2 separate regions of the Homo sapiens genome follow, and region 1 is linked to region 2. Evidence: fine-mapped expression QTL. Tissue or cell type: whole blood. Region 2 holds a variant in brackets; the other region holds the start of a gene. All regions are shown on one strand. Distances are between the middles of the regions.

Region 1 (6,800 bases), 82 kb before region 2:
GGCAGGCAAATCACTTGAGGTCAGGAGTTTGAGACCCACCTGGCCAACATGGTGAAACCCCATCTCTACTAAAAATACAAAAATTAGCTGGGTGTGGTGGCAAGTGCCTGTAATTCCAGCGGCTTGGGAGGCTGAGGCACGAGGATCACTTGAACCTGGGAGGCGGAGGTTGCAGTGAGCCGAGATTGTGCCATTGCGCTCCAACCTGGGCAACAGAGTGAGACTGTATCTCAAAAACAAACAAATAAATAAATAAAATAACAACTGTATTGAGACATAATTCACATACCCATAAAACTCACCCTTTAAGAGTGTAAAATTTCACGGGTTTTGGTATATTTACAGACTTGTAGTGATGTAACCATCACCAATATCTAATTTTAGAAGAGTTTTGATGCAGGGCAGCTGAGACCCCAGATTGGGTCTCAGCCCAGCAGGGTTTTTAGCTTTGTCCAGGAAAGAATTCAAGAGAGAGCCCGTGGTGTGAGACAGCAACTTTTATGGAGGTGGCGGTGTCCAGCAGCAGCAGAGGGGGCCTGCTCCTGCAGTGCAGGGCTGCCCCACAGGCAGTGTGCTGAGAGCAGCAGCTCTGGGCGATTCTGCAGTCATGTTGATACCCACTTTTAGTTACATGCAGATTAAGGGGCAGTTTATGCAGACATTTCTAGGAAAAGGGTAGTAACTTTTGGGTCCTCGGGTCATTGCCATGGAAGGGGGGTGATAACTCCAGGGGCGTGCCCTGGTAAACTGACATGGCACACTGATATGATGGGCATATCTTATGCTCATCTTCCACCCAGTCCCTGTTTTAGCTAGTCCTCAATTTGGTCCTCAATCTGGTGTCCAAGCCCCACCTCTGGCGTTAAGTCCTGACTCCTACCTGTTTCACCATCACTGCAGTTTTAAGAGTAACGAATTTGGGTCCCCTGGTGAAGTGGCCAGAGGCAGAGCTTCTGTGTGAACTATTTGGAGGGGAGGGGAAAGAACTCTCCCAGACTGCAGGTTCTGAAAGGAATACAGAGATGTCAGAGACTGCAGTTGCAAGAGAAAGCTTTTATAGGAGGGTGTAGAATTAAAGGACAAGAGGACTCTACATGTGGATGGAGGAGGGCACCCTGTCCGGCAGTACTGCAAGAGCAAAAGTTTGGAGGTGGGAGTGAGGTGAGTGCGTCTGCCGGCCAGAATTCTTGGGCCAGGGTGAGCAGAAAGGTTGGAGGCCAAGGGAAGGTGGGTGGTGGTGAACCTTATCCTGAAGTGTGCAAGGTGACAGTCAGAAGCTTAGAACTCCAGCCACGGGCCCTGCATGTGGCCTCCTAGCTGTAGTCTGTCCACCGAGATCGTGAGGATGCTGGTGGTTGAAAGAACTGCACCTCTGAGCAGGTGAAGAGAGAAGCTAAGGAGGGGTGATGGCAGAGGCGATGGGACAGGCTTTCTAACGATGAGGGGCTGGGGATCAACGCTCTCACGGAAGCTAAAAGAGCCCCAGCAACCACCCGCCTGGGCCCTGAGCTCTCTCCAAAGCGGGAGGGGATTCACTAAGAGGTTGCTCCCCTGGCATTGAACTCAGCATCCTATACTGGTCCTCACCATGAAGACCCCCAAGAGTGCTTCAGACCATTGCTTCTCACATTCTCTGTATAAAGACACTAATTTGTTTTTAGATTTCCAAGCATGTCACGGACCAATATGTTTGTTAAATATACTAAGAATGAATTGCTAGAAAGATGAAATTAAAAAGACATACACCGCCAGGTGCAGTGGCTCACGCCCATAATCTCACCACTTTGGGAGGCGGAGGTAGGTGCATCGCTTGAGCCCAGGAGTTCAAGATCAGCCTAGGCAACAAAGTGAGACCCCCGTATCTACAAAACTTAAAAAATTAGCCAGGTGTGGTGGCGCAGTCTGTAGTCCCAGCTATTCTGGAGGCCGAAGTGGGAGGATCGCTTGAGGCTGCAGTGAGCCGAGATCGCACCACTGCACTCCAGCCTGGGTGATAGAGTGAGACTCTGTCTCCAAAAAAAAAAAGGACATACATCATGCAAGTTTGGATTTTTGTTTTTAGATTCAACTGACGAAGTTACGGGATCAAACTGCTGTAGGAGCTGCCAAACGCTTCTCTCCATTTCTGGCCGCGGGGCCGCGGACCGCCCTTTAAGTAGCCCGTTTTATCCCTGGCAGAGGTGGAGCCTTAGGCAGGCCTAGAGACTTTCCCGGGTCCTCCAGGCCGGGGAACGCCCCGCTCGGAGGCCGGGCTTGGGCGGAGACTGCGCCGGGGCTGCTGAAAACTAGCCGAGGAGAGCCAGGGAGCCGGAGAGATCGCGCGCCTGCCGCCGCCGGAGCCTGCGAGCCGAGACCGTAAGCGCCCGGGGCCGGCCGGGCCCGCACTCCCCGGACGCAGACGCGGTTCGGGCTCCGCGCGGGCTCGGCCGCCGGGGTGGGCGGCGGGCCGGGGCGCCGAGGGGTCGGGGCTGCGGTCGGCCCGCAGGGGTGCAGAGGGACTTGTAGTTGGTCCGCCCCCAGCTCCTGCCCCGGCCAGGAGACTGCGCGTGCCGCCTACTGGGGGAAGGAGCCTGCAGGCGACCGCGGACTTCTCGCAGGGAATTCCGCGTCCCAGACTGTGGGCGGACGCCGCAGGGAGGGAGGCTCGCGACCCCGAGAGCGCACCGCGTCCCCTGGCCTGGGCGAGCTCTGCTTCCAGGGCCGTGGCTCGCTCGGCGGTGAAATGCACTTAATTTGTCACCCAAGTCGGAACACTGATTTTCATGCGCGTCCGTGTGAAGAGACCACCAAACAGGCTTTGTGTGAGCAACATGGCTGTTTATTTCACCTGGGTGCAGGCGGGCTGAGTCCGAAAAGAGTCAGCCAAGGGAGATAGGGGTGGGGCCGTTTTATAGGATTTGGGTAGGTAAAGGAAAATTACAGTCAAAGGGGGGTTCTCTGGCGGGCAGAGTGGGGGGGGTCACAAGGTGCTCAGTAGGGGAGCTTTTGAGCCAGGATGAGCCAGGAGAAGGAATTTCACAAGACAATGTCATCAGTTAAGGCAGGAACAGGTCATTTTCACTTTTGTGGTGGAATGACATCAGTTAAGGCAGGAACCGGCCATCTGGATGTGTAGGTGCAGGCCACAGGGGATATGATGGCTTAGCTTCGGCTCAGAGGCCTGACACTGATCACACCTTTTAGTTGAAATGCGCTTTCATCTCCATCTGCTGCCGCAGCCGCCGCCCGGCACCCCCTCGCTCTGGTCTCGGGATTGAAGGCCAGCCCTCTCCTCTTGTAGAACAGGAAACTTGCCCGGGAGTTCACCTTGTAGTTGAAGCCAGGGAATGTGGTCAACCTGAGCAAAAGCGCCGCGGAGACCGAGTGGCCGCCTGCCTCCCTCCCTGGCAGATGTCGGTTTTCTCTGAGCTTCTGGCTCCTTCCTTGCCCTGGCGGCTCCCGAGATCTTGGAGGTGGGGTGCCTAGCAATGTTGTAATCCTAATTTTGACTTTTTTTTCTTAAAGTTGAATGCCCCCTCCATAGCCCACCTCCCATTGTTTAAACTTCAGGTTCCGCAAAGCCTGGATCCGCCCCTACAGGCAACACTCGTTGTCCTGGAAGTTCTGTGAGGGCTCAGCTTGTGGCTGGAGGTGGGAGGTGAGGGGGACCCATGCACTTGGCAGGCCCGCTTCCAGGACAGCCCTTTGCTGGGATTGATGAGCTGTTGGTGGAAAATTGTTGAGGACCTTGGGGTTGGTGGCTGTTTCGGTACCACTGTGCAGCCTCCTCTGCATCCAGCATAATTTAAAATAAACATTTTCAGGAAGCCACACTTCTCCAGAAAGTAACATTGTTTTCTGGTGTAACGGTTGCCTCCTTCAGGGAGCTAGGTTTGGGGGATAATAGGGGGCCTTTCACTGGCCCCACTTGGTCTGACTTAGCAGCAAAAACTCTGCGAGTGCTCTCCAAGCAGTTTTTCTTTCCCAAATTTCCACACCTAGGAGGCGCTGAGGAGGCATGGGCGGTACTTAGGAACTGCTCACTGTGGAACTGAGGCACAGCGGGGAGCATGCCCTCGTGGGATTTGCAGTTCTAGGGGCAGAGGGATAATAAACAAAATACATTTGTAAACTATAAAGTATGTTAGAAGATGATGTGTAATATGGAGATAAATAAAACTTTAAAGAGGGGAGAGGAGTGCCAGGTGGAAAGGGAAGGCCTCACTGAAGGGTGGCACTGGCATAGACCTGAAGAGTTAGGGAGCAGCCAAGCTGCTGCCTGGGGTGCAGGTGCAAAGGCTGGGGGCAGGAGTGTGCCCAGCTTGAATGGCCTGATGTTTGTGTTTGCAGAGTGTGGGTCAAGCTGATGAGTGACCTACTGGATAAACTGAACTAGCTCAGTCTGTAAGTGAGGGGACTCCTGAGCTTTCTGCGGCCTTCTTCCCAATTCCAGGAAAGGAAGGACCTTCCACAGAAAATAACTACTCAGCAAGACAGCCAGGGTGAACCTCAGCACCATCTGTGACAAGCCACATGCTCTCTGCGTGATGCCTCCTGCCTCTCAGCTGTGCCTGAAGCACACTAGCTGGCATGGACTTACGCGGCTGGGAACATCTTCAGGAAGCCCTGAATGAGGGCTCTGTGGGCAGAGGGACCTTTGCAGAAAGGGCATCTTGACCACTGCAGGAGGTGGAGTGACTCTCCTGGGGTGTCCTGGTTCCTGCCTGATGTCTTAAGCATAACTGGCATTTTCAGGGAGCCCAGGTTCACCAATGCACAGTGCCCCTCCTGTCGACCTGATACCCAGGCTTGGTGATTGCTCACCTGGCACCTTGATTCCCGTTCTGGTATCTTGGCCCAGGCCCAGACATGTGAAAGCAGGGGCTACCGAGATTCATTTCTCAGTTCTTACGCCAAGAGGTTCAACCACATGGATCACAGCTGGGTGTACCAAATAAGGGAGGACCAAGCATGAGCTGGTCACCCCTGCTGAAGAAGTAGCTCGAAGCCCACCCACTCGGGGACAGAGTGGGCACAGATGGGATAGACAGATAGTGATTCGAGGGGTGCCTAGGATCTCATACTGAAAACCCACCTCTGCTAGGGCCATAAATCCCATCAACAGCAATTCATTCCTTTGAGAGGTAATACAGTGATGTGGGAAGAGGATTGGGCTGGAAAAAAGACTTGGCTCATGTCCCAGCTCTGCCATTAATGTGTCCCCTCTCTGGACCTCATCTGTAAAATGAGGTTAGGCTCAGCGATCTGCAGGCCTTCTTGCAGCTCTGCTATGTGATGATTCTGTGGCAAAGTCTGAAGGGATTTCAGGAAAGGAATGTGTAGGAGGGAAACAGTAAGTTTTGAAGGGACTCAGTGGGCCCTGTAGCCTCTGCTGGGTCCAGTGAAGACACTTCAACTAGAGTGAAGGCCCTGGCCACAGGGTAGGGGAGGCAAAATCTTAAGAGTTCAAGAGCCCTGAGTCAAGGCAGGAGGGTCACTGCCCAGCCCAGCTGGCCCCCTGGGCTGCCTGTGTGTGGTTCTTGACCCAGACCTAGTGGCTTAGGAGCAGAGTCTCCAAGGGGCTGTGGGATAAGGTGGGGATTGCAGGAGGGAGAAGGCACCCCAGCAGTTCCCCCGTTAGGGGACCAAAGCGTTGCCAAGGATCCAGCCACACCCCTCTCCTGAGGAGGGAGGAGCTGGTGGGCGCTCCAGGAAGAGCTTCCTCTCAACAAGGAGAAAACTGCGCAATCCAATCCTCCGTTATATAACTGAGCACACGATTGTGCAAACCAAGCTCACACTGAGCAGCCTCCCCTATTGTCAAGGTTTATTTACTTTCCCAGGGGAAGTCATAGTTCATCCTTTCTCAGCAGAAAGCAGCCATTTGACTGCCACAGCCTGACCTACGGCATTCCAGGAGATGGGTTCAGAGACCTGGTGTGGAGTCCTCATGCCCACCCGCCCTGCTGTCTGTGTCTTTCCGTCTGTTGCCTGGTGGGTGGGTGTGGTTTAGTGCATGGTCCAGCCCCCGCACAGCCACACCCATTAGGCTCTCCAAGGCCTAACTGAGCAAGCTTGCAGAAGAGGGGAAAGTGTTCTTTTCTCTGAGGAGTTAAAGAGACTTCTGGAAAATTCTCCAGCTACTCCACAAACTAGGATCACAGGCCTTGTTCTTAGGTCGGGAGCAGGAGTTTTTGCTGCCTTTAGCATTTGGGAAGTTTGATGAATAGAGACTGAATTTGAATGTCTTTTTGGTACTTAAGAGCTGGATTAACTACTTCACATATCTGAGCTTCATTTTTAATTCTTTTTAAAACAGAAAAAGTGGCTGGGCAAGATGGCGCACACCTGTAATCCCAGCATTTTGGGAAGCTGAGGTGGGTGGATCACTTGAGCCCAGGAGTTCTGAGACCAGCCTGGGCAACAAAGTGAGACCTCGTCTCTATAAAGAATAAATTAGCTGGGAGTGGTGGAGCACACCTGTAATCCCAGCACTTTAGGAAGCTGAGGCAGGAGGATCTCTTGAGCCCAAGAGTTCAAGACCACCCTGGGCAACATAGCGAGACCCTGTCTCAAATAATTTTTAAAAAGAAAAACTACCTCTTCTTAAGATGGTTGTAGTATGGGAGATGGTGTGTTTAAGTCTTCCCACCCCAGTGTCACAGCTCAGGGCTTCTCTAGCCTTCCTCACAGCGGTTGGGGGTGCCCAGACACATCCTGAAGTCTAGGCCGTGTTCTGAGTGTCTCTGCCACGGGCCCGCCTGGCTGGCTTTAGTCCAGGAGCAGCCTGGACTGTGACTCTTGAAGGCTGTGGGAGGCTG
Region 2 (8,157 bases):
GGCACCTCTTTGAGCTGCAGCTGCCGCAGCAGGCTGCCCAGGAGCTGCTCCCCGGTCAGGGCGGCCCCGGGGCTGGCCAGGGGCAACACCCAGAGTGCCCAGCAGAGCCACAGGGGCTGCATGGTGCTGCCCTGGAGGAGCAAGAGGCAGAGTGGGGCTGTCCCTTGAGAAGGCTGCAGGAGGGTCTCAGGCAGCTGGATGTGCTGAGAGCCAAGCCTGGGCAGCTTTATAGCCTGGGGTGGAGGGAGGAGGTAGGGAGTGGGGAGGGAAGGAGGGAGGGAGGTCACACCCCTGAGACCTCCTGGAAGCTCACAGCCAGACGAGTCCCTGAGCTGGGAGGAGGGGGCTGTCTAGATAGGGCAAGTCTGTCTGGGCTGTGAACAGCTGGCTACAGCTGTCTATACAATGGTCATGAACCCCTAATGTGGGTTGAGGCCTGACCAGTTAAATTAAAAAGCTCATTTCCTAGAGTAGAGGTGGGGCTCTCGTTCTCTGCAAGAGGCTCAGTTCCCCCAGCTGCTGGTAAGTGGACCTAGAGTCTTGTTCCTTGCTGCAACCAAACAACTGACAGGAACCAGAATGGCTCAGGCAACGCCAGGGCTCTAAGGGCCAATCCAGTCTGCAGGGATGAGCATCCGGGCCCGTGCTCAGAGGGTCCCGGGGCCTCATGAGATCCTGAGCTGGTGGTCCCCAGTTGTGAAACCAGATTTCCCACTGTTCTGGGGGGACCTTCCTAGGCAAGGGAGCCTAGGAGCATTTAGTTCCAACGGGGTTTTGTCCAATAAGGAAGGAGCCTCATCCTCTCCCTCATCCCTGCTGTTCACAGAATTAGAGTTTAGAGTTGAAAGGAATATCCAGGCTACCTTCTCCCCCAATTTTTTTTTCTTTTGAGACAGAGTTTCATTCTTGTTGCCCAGGCTGGAGTACAATGGCGCAGTCTCGGCTCACGGCAACCTCTCCCAATTTTTGAGCTGAAAAAAAACCGAGGCTCAGAGGTGTCAACTTCCCGAAGCTCACAAAGTTAATGATCAATGTCCATATAAAGTCAGGTCTTGCAATTCACAAAGTTCTTGGCACACTCAAATTATTTACAGCCTAGTTTTGATCTATGCCCTAAAGGGAGCCAGGTGGTCTCAATCCAGGTGATCAGGTCTAGGCTGGGGCAGGGGGACAATCCCCCAAGACAGAGGACCCCTATCCTGAATGTGGATTTGTAAGCTGGTTGAAGAGTTTTGCTGGGGAAATAAAACATTTGGGTGATCAGCCAGGGGTAGGGCTACCAGATAAAATACAAGGCACTATTTGGGACATAATTATACCAAAAAAATTATTCATTGTCTACCTGACATTCAAATTTCACCAGAGTCCTATATTTTTATTTGCTAGATCTGACAACGAAAAATAAAACAAATGTGGATTGGGAGACTGTTTACAATGGTCTGAAGTGTTGCCAGGAGGGAGGGCAGCCCCACCCTTTGTCATGCAGAAGACGGAGCCTGGCTTCCCCAACCATCCCCACCTGGGTCTGCCCAGATTGGGCTTGAGATGGTAAAGTGGCCCCAGAACCAGATCTTCTATCTAAGGGAGGAGAGCGGGGCAAGGGAATGAGTGATCCCTACCCTGACTCAGAGCACATTTGGACCTGGCCCTCGGCCCAGAGCTAAGGGCACTGGAGGGCAGTGGTCTGGCCATACTGGGGAGAGGGGGAGGGGGCCCAGGTAGGAGGGTGGATGAGGAGTGGGGCCCTTTGCCCTCGAACACCCTCCTGCCCCTGGTGGGCCAGGATGTGACCCCAACCAGAGGCCAGGTTGCCAAGTGAGAGCCATGGGAAAACATGGGGGTCAGAGGTCATCCTGGGGCCTCCATGGATGGGGATGAGCTGGACTCAGGCCTGGGCTCTGACGTCAGCAAAGCTAAGAGTCCAGGAGTGGAGTGGCTTCTAAGTCAGAGCCCAGCATCTAGGGTCTCCAGGGTGGCTTTTGCCCCCTTCCTGGGCAGGGGCAGATACTTCTGAGAGTGCTCAGGAAATGCCCCAAGGCCAGTCCAGGTGTCCTGGGCTGCCCCAACCCACACCATCAACCTCCCTGACCCCAGGCCTGGGGGCCCATGTGGCTCCTTGGTGGTTCCAGGCACCCCCTGTGTGGGCACTTCCTGTTCTCCCAAAGTAGCTCAGACTCTGGCATCATCAGGGGTCCTTCCCTGGGGCTCTGTCTGGGCTGAGGAGGGTGGGAAACAAACCAGGAATAGGGACCCGTTTCAGTTCATCCAGCACCTTTGTGTGGTGGGCACATCTTGCCAGACAGCAACAACTCAAGCATGGCCTGGGAAGGACCCTTTGTCCCTTGGTGATGTTTGTTCAGTGTTCCAGGCTATGGACCGTGGGAACGGCCAACCTGGATGTTTAATTATGTTTAACTATGAAGAATGTCAGGCCCCTGGCCTGTTACTTGGAACACAGGCTGTACAAGGAACAGAGGTCCATTGTTTTGAGGTAGGTGGAGGCTGCTAAGTAGAGGTTGCTAGATGGAAGTTGCAATGTGGTTTTGGGCTGGGCGTGGTGGCTCACGCCTATAATCCCAGCACTCTGGGAGGCCAAGGTGGGCGGATCACTTGAGGTCAGGAATTGGAGCCTAGCCTGGCCAACATGGCAAAACCTCGACTCTACTAAAAATACAAAAATTACCTGGGCTTGGTGGCAGACGCCTGTAGTCCCAGCTAGTCAGGAGGCTGAGACAGGAGATGCGCTTGAACCTGTGAGGCAGAGGTTGCAGTGAGCCGAGATTGCACCACTGCGCTCCAGCCTGGGCGACAGAGTGAGACCCTGTCTCAAAAAAAGCCAACCAAACAAACAAATGTTGCAATGTGAAGGTTTCTACATGACCTGCACACTTTTCACAAATGGCAGCGGTTGCTCCTGTCCAGCCTGCCGCTCCTGGACTTCCCCCTGTGCGTAAGTCCCTTGAATAAAGCTCATGTCTTGCCTGCTGTCTCTGGGTCTTTTCTTTGGTCTCTCCAAGGTGGTGCCCTCCCAGCTTGCCTGCTTGGGGGTCCAACATGACACCCTTCTTGGCAAGAGTGAGTTCAAACCTTGCTATGCCACTCACATTTACTAGCTGTGTGGCCTCTGGCAGGTTTTCTTTTACTTTTTCAAATTAATTTTTTAATATTATTCTTATTTATTTATTTATTTATTTTTTGAGATGGAGTTTCGCTCTTGTTGCCCAGCCTGGAGTGCAATGGTGTGATCTTGGCTTACTGCAACCTCCGCCTCCTGGGTTCAAGAGATTCTCCTGCCTCAGCCTCCCGAGTAGCTGGGATTACAGGCACCCGCCACCATGCCTGGCTAATTTTTTTGTATTTTTAGTAGAGACGGGGGTTTCACCATGTTGGCCAGTCTGGTCCCAAACTCCTGACCTCAGGTGATCTGCCCACCTCGGCCTCCCAAACTTCTGGGATTGCAAGCATGAGCCACCGCGCCCTGTCATATTTTTAAATTTTTTTTTCTGAGACGGGGGTCTCACTATGTTGGCCAAGTTGGTCTTGAACTCTTGGCTTCAAGCCATTCTCCTGCCTTGGCTTCCCAAAGTGCTAGGATTACAGGTGTGAGCTACCACACCCAGCCACTGGCAGGTTTTCCACATTCTTCAATACAATACGTTTCCACCTATAAAATGGGAATAATGTATTTTTCTTGCAGTGTTTGTATTAATTGAGATGTCTACAGGGTGCCTAGCACA[C/G]CCTCTTGGTACACACTAGGTGACCAATAAATAGTAGGAGTCTCTTATACTGTTAGTAATTTTTTAAATGTTTAAATTTTTTAAATTGTGTGTTAACATTGTTTCTTTTTTTTCTTTTTTCTTTTCTTTTTTTCTTTTTATTTTGTTTCCTTTTTCTTTTTTGTCCTCTGGTGTTGAAACTGAATTTTTTTGGTTTTGTTTTGTTTTGTTTTTTGTTTTTTTTCTTGAGATGGAGTCTCGCTCTGTCGCCCAGGCTGGAGTGCAGTGGCACAATCTCGGCTCACTGCAAGCTTCGCCTTCCGGGTTCACGCCATTCTCCTGCCTCAGCCTCCCGAGTAGCTGGGACTACAGGCACCCGCCACCGCGCCCGGCTAATTTTTTTGTATTTTTAGTAGAGACGGGGTTTCACCATGTTAGCCAGGATGGTCTGGATCTCCTGACCTCGTGATCCGCACGTCTCCCCCTCCCAAAGTGCTGGGATTACAGGCTTGAGCCACCGCGCCCGGCCTTGTTTTTGTTTTTGTTTGTAATTAATACAAATAGCACAACTTTCAAAAGATAGGAAAGGGAATATGGAAGAATGTCAGTCTCTTTTTGTTCCTCATCTGCACATTTTTATTTTATTTTTATTTATTTATTTTTTGAGACAAGGTCTCACTCTGTTGCTCAGCCTGGAGTGCAGTGGTGCCATCTCAGCTCATTGCAGCCTCAACCTCTTGGGCTCAAAGGATCCTCCCGCCTCAGTCTCCCGAGTAACTGGAACCACAGATGTGCACCACCACACCCAGCTGAATTATTATTATTATTATTTTGAGATAGAGTCTCACTGTGTTGCCTAGGCTGGAGTGCAGTGGCAGGATCTCGGCTCACTGCAACCTCCACCTCCCAGGTTCAAGAGATTTTCCTCCTCCAGGGTTCAAGAGGTTCTGCTGTCTTAGCCTCCCAAGTAGCTGGGATTACAGGTGCCCACCACCACGCCCGGCTAATTTTTGTATTTTTAGTAGAAATGGGGTTTCACCAGGTTGGCCAGGCTGGCCTCGAACTCCTGACCTCAGATGATCTGCCCATCTCCGCCCCTTCAAAGTGCTGGGATTACAGGCATGAGCCACCGTGCCCAGCCAAAATTTTTTATGCTTTGTAAAGAGGAAGTCTTGCCGTGTTGCCCAGACTGGTCTCGAACTCCTGGGTGCAAGTAATTCTCCTGTCTCAACCTCTGGAGAAGCCGGGAACATAGGTGTGTGCCATCATGCTCAGCTTATATTTCTGTTTTTGAGAACTGTTTGTTCATACCTTGTGTCAATTTTCTACTGAGTTGTTTTTTCTTATTGATATGTAGACACTTTATATATCAGGGACATTAGCCTTTTCTCTGTTATATGCATTGCAAATATTTCTCCCATGTATAATTTGTGTTTTATACTTTGTTTATGCTGTTTTTTTTTTTTGTCATACTCTAATGTTTTTATTGAATTATGTTAAATTCACAGATTAGGAAGCACTGGCATTTTCTCATCTAAGAACACAGTTTGCCTTTCCTCATGGTTTGTCTTATGTCTTACATATAACTTGTTAAAACATCTTATAAATAACTTGTTAAATCAACTCCTGGGTAGTTTGCTTTTCATTTGTATTGAAGATGGGATTTTTTTATACCATCACACTGCTTAAGTGTTATTTGTGTCATTAAAGACTTGATTTCTTTTTCTTTTTCTTTTTTTGAGACAGAGTCGCTCTGTCGCCCAGGCTGGAGTGTAGTGGCACGATCTCTGCTCACTGCCACCTCCACCTCCCAGGTTCAAGTGATTCTCCTGCCTCAGCCTCTGAGTAGCTGGGATTACTGGCACACACCACCACACCTGGCTATTTTTTATTTTTAGTAGAGACAGGTTTTCATGGTCTTGAACTCCTGACCTCAAGTGATCCACCCGCCTAGGCCTCCCAAAGTGCTGGGATTACAGGCATGAGCCACTGTGCCCAGCCTGAAGATTTCAGGCTGTGGTACCAATTGGTACATAGAAGTCCTCTTCAAACTTCTTACAAACAATAAGACATTCCAGTAAAGTGAGTTCAAAATTGGTGCATAGAAGACTTTACTGGAACTTCTTATTGTACCTAACAGTTCTTAGTTGATTTCTTGCATTTTCTAGGTACAAAATCTTAATATTTGCTACTAATAATTTAATTCCTCTTTTTCAAAGTTTATTCCTCTGGAATTTTTTTTTCTATTGTCTAACTCCATTTAGTAGTTTTTCTAGAACAATATTCAATAAAAGTGATGATAATGGATAGCATTGTTTTGTCCTGGTTTTAATAGGACTCCTTTACTATTTCCCCATTGAGTATGAGCTTTACGGTTGAGCTAAATACATTTTATCATGTTAACGAAGTATCCATAATAGAATTTTTTAAAAATCAAGAACGGGCTGGGCGCGGTGGCTCCCACCTGTAATCCCAGCACTTTGGGAGGCCGAGGCGGGCGCATCACGAGGTCAAGAGCTCGAGACCAGCCTGACGAACGTAGTGAGACCCCGTGTCTACTAAAAATACAAAAATTAACTGGGTGTAGTGGCGCACGCCTGTGATCCCAGCTACTTGGGAGGCTGGGCAGGAGAATTGCTTGAACCCAGGAGGCGGAGGTTGCAGTGAGCCAAGATCGCACCACTGCATTCCAGCCTGGGCGACAGGGCAAGACTCCATCTCAAAAAAAAAAAAAAAAAAAAATCGAGAACGGGCCAAGCATGGTGGCTCATGCCTTAAATCCTAGCACTTTGAGAGTCCAAGGCAGAAGGATTGCTTGAGGCCAGGAGTTCAAGACCAGCCTGGGCAACATAGCAAGACCCCATCTCTACAAAAACATTTTTAAATTAGGTGTGGTGGTGTGCACTTAGCTACTCAGGAGGCTAAGACAGGAGGATCACTTGAACCCAGGAGTTTAAGGCTGCAGTGAGCTATGATTGTGCCACTGCACTCCAGTCTGGGTGACAGAGTGAGACCCTATTTCTAAATAATAATAATAATAATAATAATAATAATAATAATATAATGGATGTTGAGTAAAACCAATTTGATGAATATCTGGAGCAGTGAGAACTCTCAGATATCACTGGTGAGAGCGTAAAGTGCTACACCACACTAGAGAACTTGGCAGTATTTACTACAGTTCAAGATACCAGGTAAACTTAAGACCCAATGGCCAGGCACCACGGCTCATGCCTATAATCCCAACACTTTGGGATGCTGAGGTATGAGGATGGCTTCAGGCCAGGAGTTCAAGACCAGCCTGGGCAACATAGCAAGACCTCATCTCTACTATAAAAAAAATCAGCCAGGCATGGTGGCACACACCTGTAGTACTCCCAGCTACTCGGGAGGCTGAGGTGGCAGGATTGCTTGAGCCCAGGAGTTCGAGGCTGCAATGAGCCATGATTGCACCACTGCAATACAGCAGCCTGGGCAATAGAGCGAGACCCTGTCTCTTAAAAACAAAAAAGGGGCCGGGCACAGTGGCTCACGCCGCTAATCACAGCAATTTGGGAGGCCGAGGTGGGCCAATCACCTGAGGTCAGGAGTCCGTGACCAGCATGGCCAACATGGTGAAAGTCCATCTCTACTAAAATTACAAAAATTAGCTGGGTGTGGCGATGGGCACCTGTAATCCCAGCTACTCGGGAGGCTGAGGCAGAAGAATCACTTGAACCCCCGTGGCGGGGTGGGGCACAGAGGTTGCCGTGAGCCGAGATCACGCCACTGCACTTCCAGCCTGGGCAAGAGAGTGAGACTCCATTTCAAAAAAAAAAAAAAAAAGAAAGAAAAAAGGCACAGTCATTTCATTCAGTTGGACAGAAATGCATGCATAAGATTGATGATACAGCAGCATTGTTTATAAGAGTCCAAACTGAAGCAACTCACCAAAAATATCCATCGACACTGTAAAGCACAAATAAAATGTAGTATAGTCTTATGGAATACTTTATGGCAAAGAAAATGAACCGAAACTGTCTACAACATTGGCAAATGTCACAAGCAGAACATTGAACAGAAGCCAGACATGAAAGATGAATACGATTCCATTTGTTTAAAATTCAAAACCATGCAGAAGTAGAGTGTGTAGAGATGGATTTGTTTGCTTTTGTGGGAAGGAAAAAAGTCATTTGCTAATTAATAGTGATAATTCTGCTCCTCGTTTCTAATATTTACACCTCCGATTTTCTTCTACAGTTACTCATTTTGATTATTTGCAGTCATTGTATACAAACTTTTCAGGAAATACCCTCAGGCATGCAGAGAGCTGTAGGTGGAAATTATAAGAGGACCTGTGTCCCCTATATTCAGGGACCTATCCCACCAACACTCTGCCCTCCTAGCCCCAGGGCCTCATTGGGAAGTCTGTCTGCTGCCTAAGCGACCACAGTCCAGCCCA

The links. PIP is the estimated chance that this variant, and not a neighbour inherited with it, causes the effect.
Region 1: EPHX1 starts here. The variant in region 2 is fine-mapped to the expression of EPHX1 in whole blood (TOPMed, PIP above 0.99).

Annotation. Positions count from the first base shown.
Region 1 is chr1:225,807,815-225,814,614 of GRCh38, forward strand. EPHX1 (epoxide hydrolase 1) reads left to right here and starts at 2,310. Exons shown (of 9, transcript NM_001136018.4): 1 at 2,310-2,355. RefSeq lists a silencer at 2,268-2,487.
Region 2 is chr1:225,888,945-225,897,101 of GRCh38, forward strand. LEFTY1 (left-right determination factor 1) reads right to left here and starts at 202. Exons shown (of 4, transcript NM_020997.4): 1 at 1-202. The coding sequence starts at 122. RefSeq lists enhancers at 1,071-1,788, 1,789-2,506, 2,507-3,222, 7,323-8,086, 8,030-8,157 and a silencer at 2,245-2,539. The variant C/G (reference allele first, on the strand shown) is at 3,738.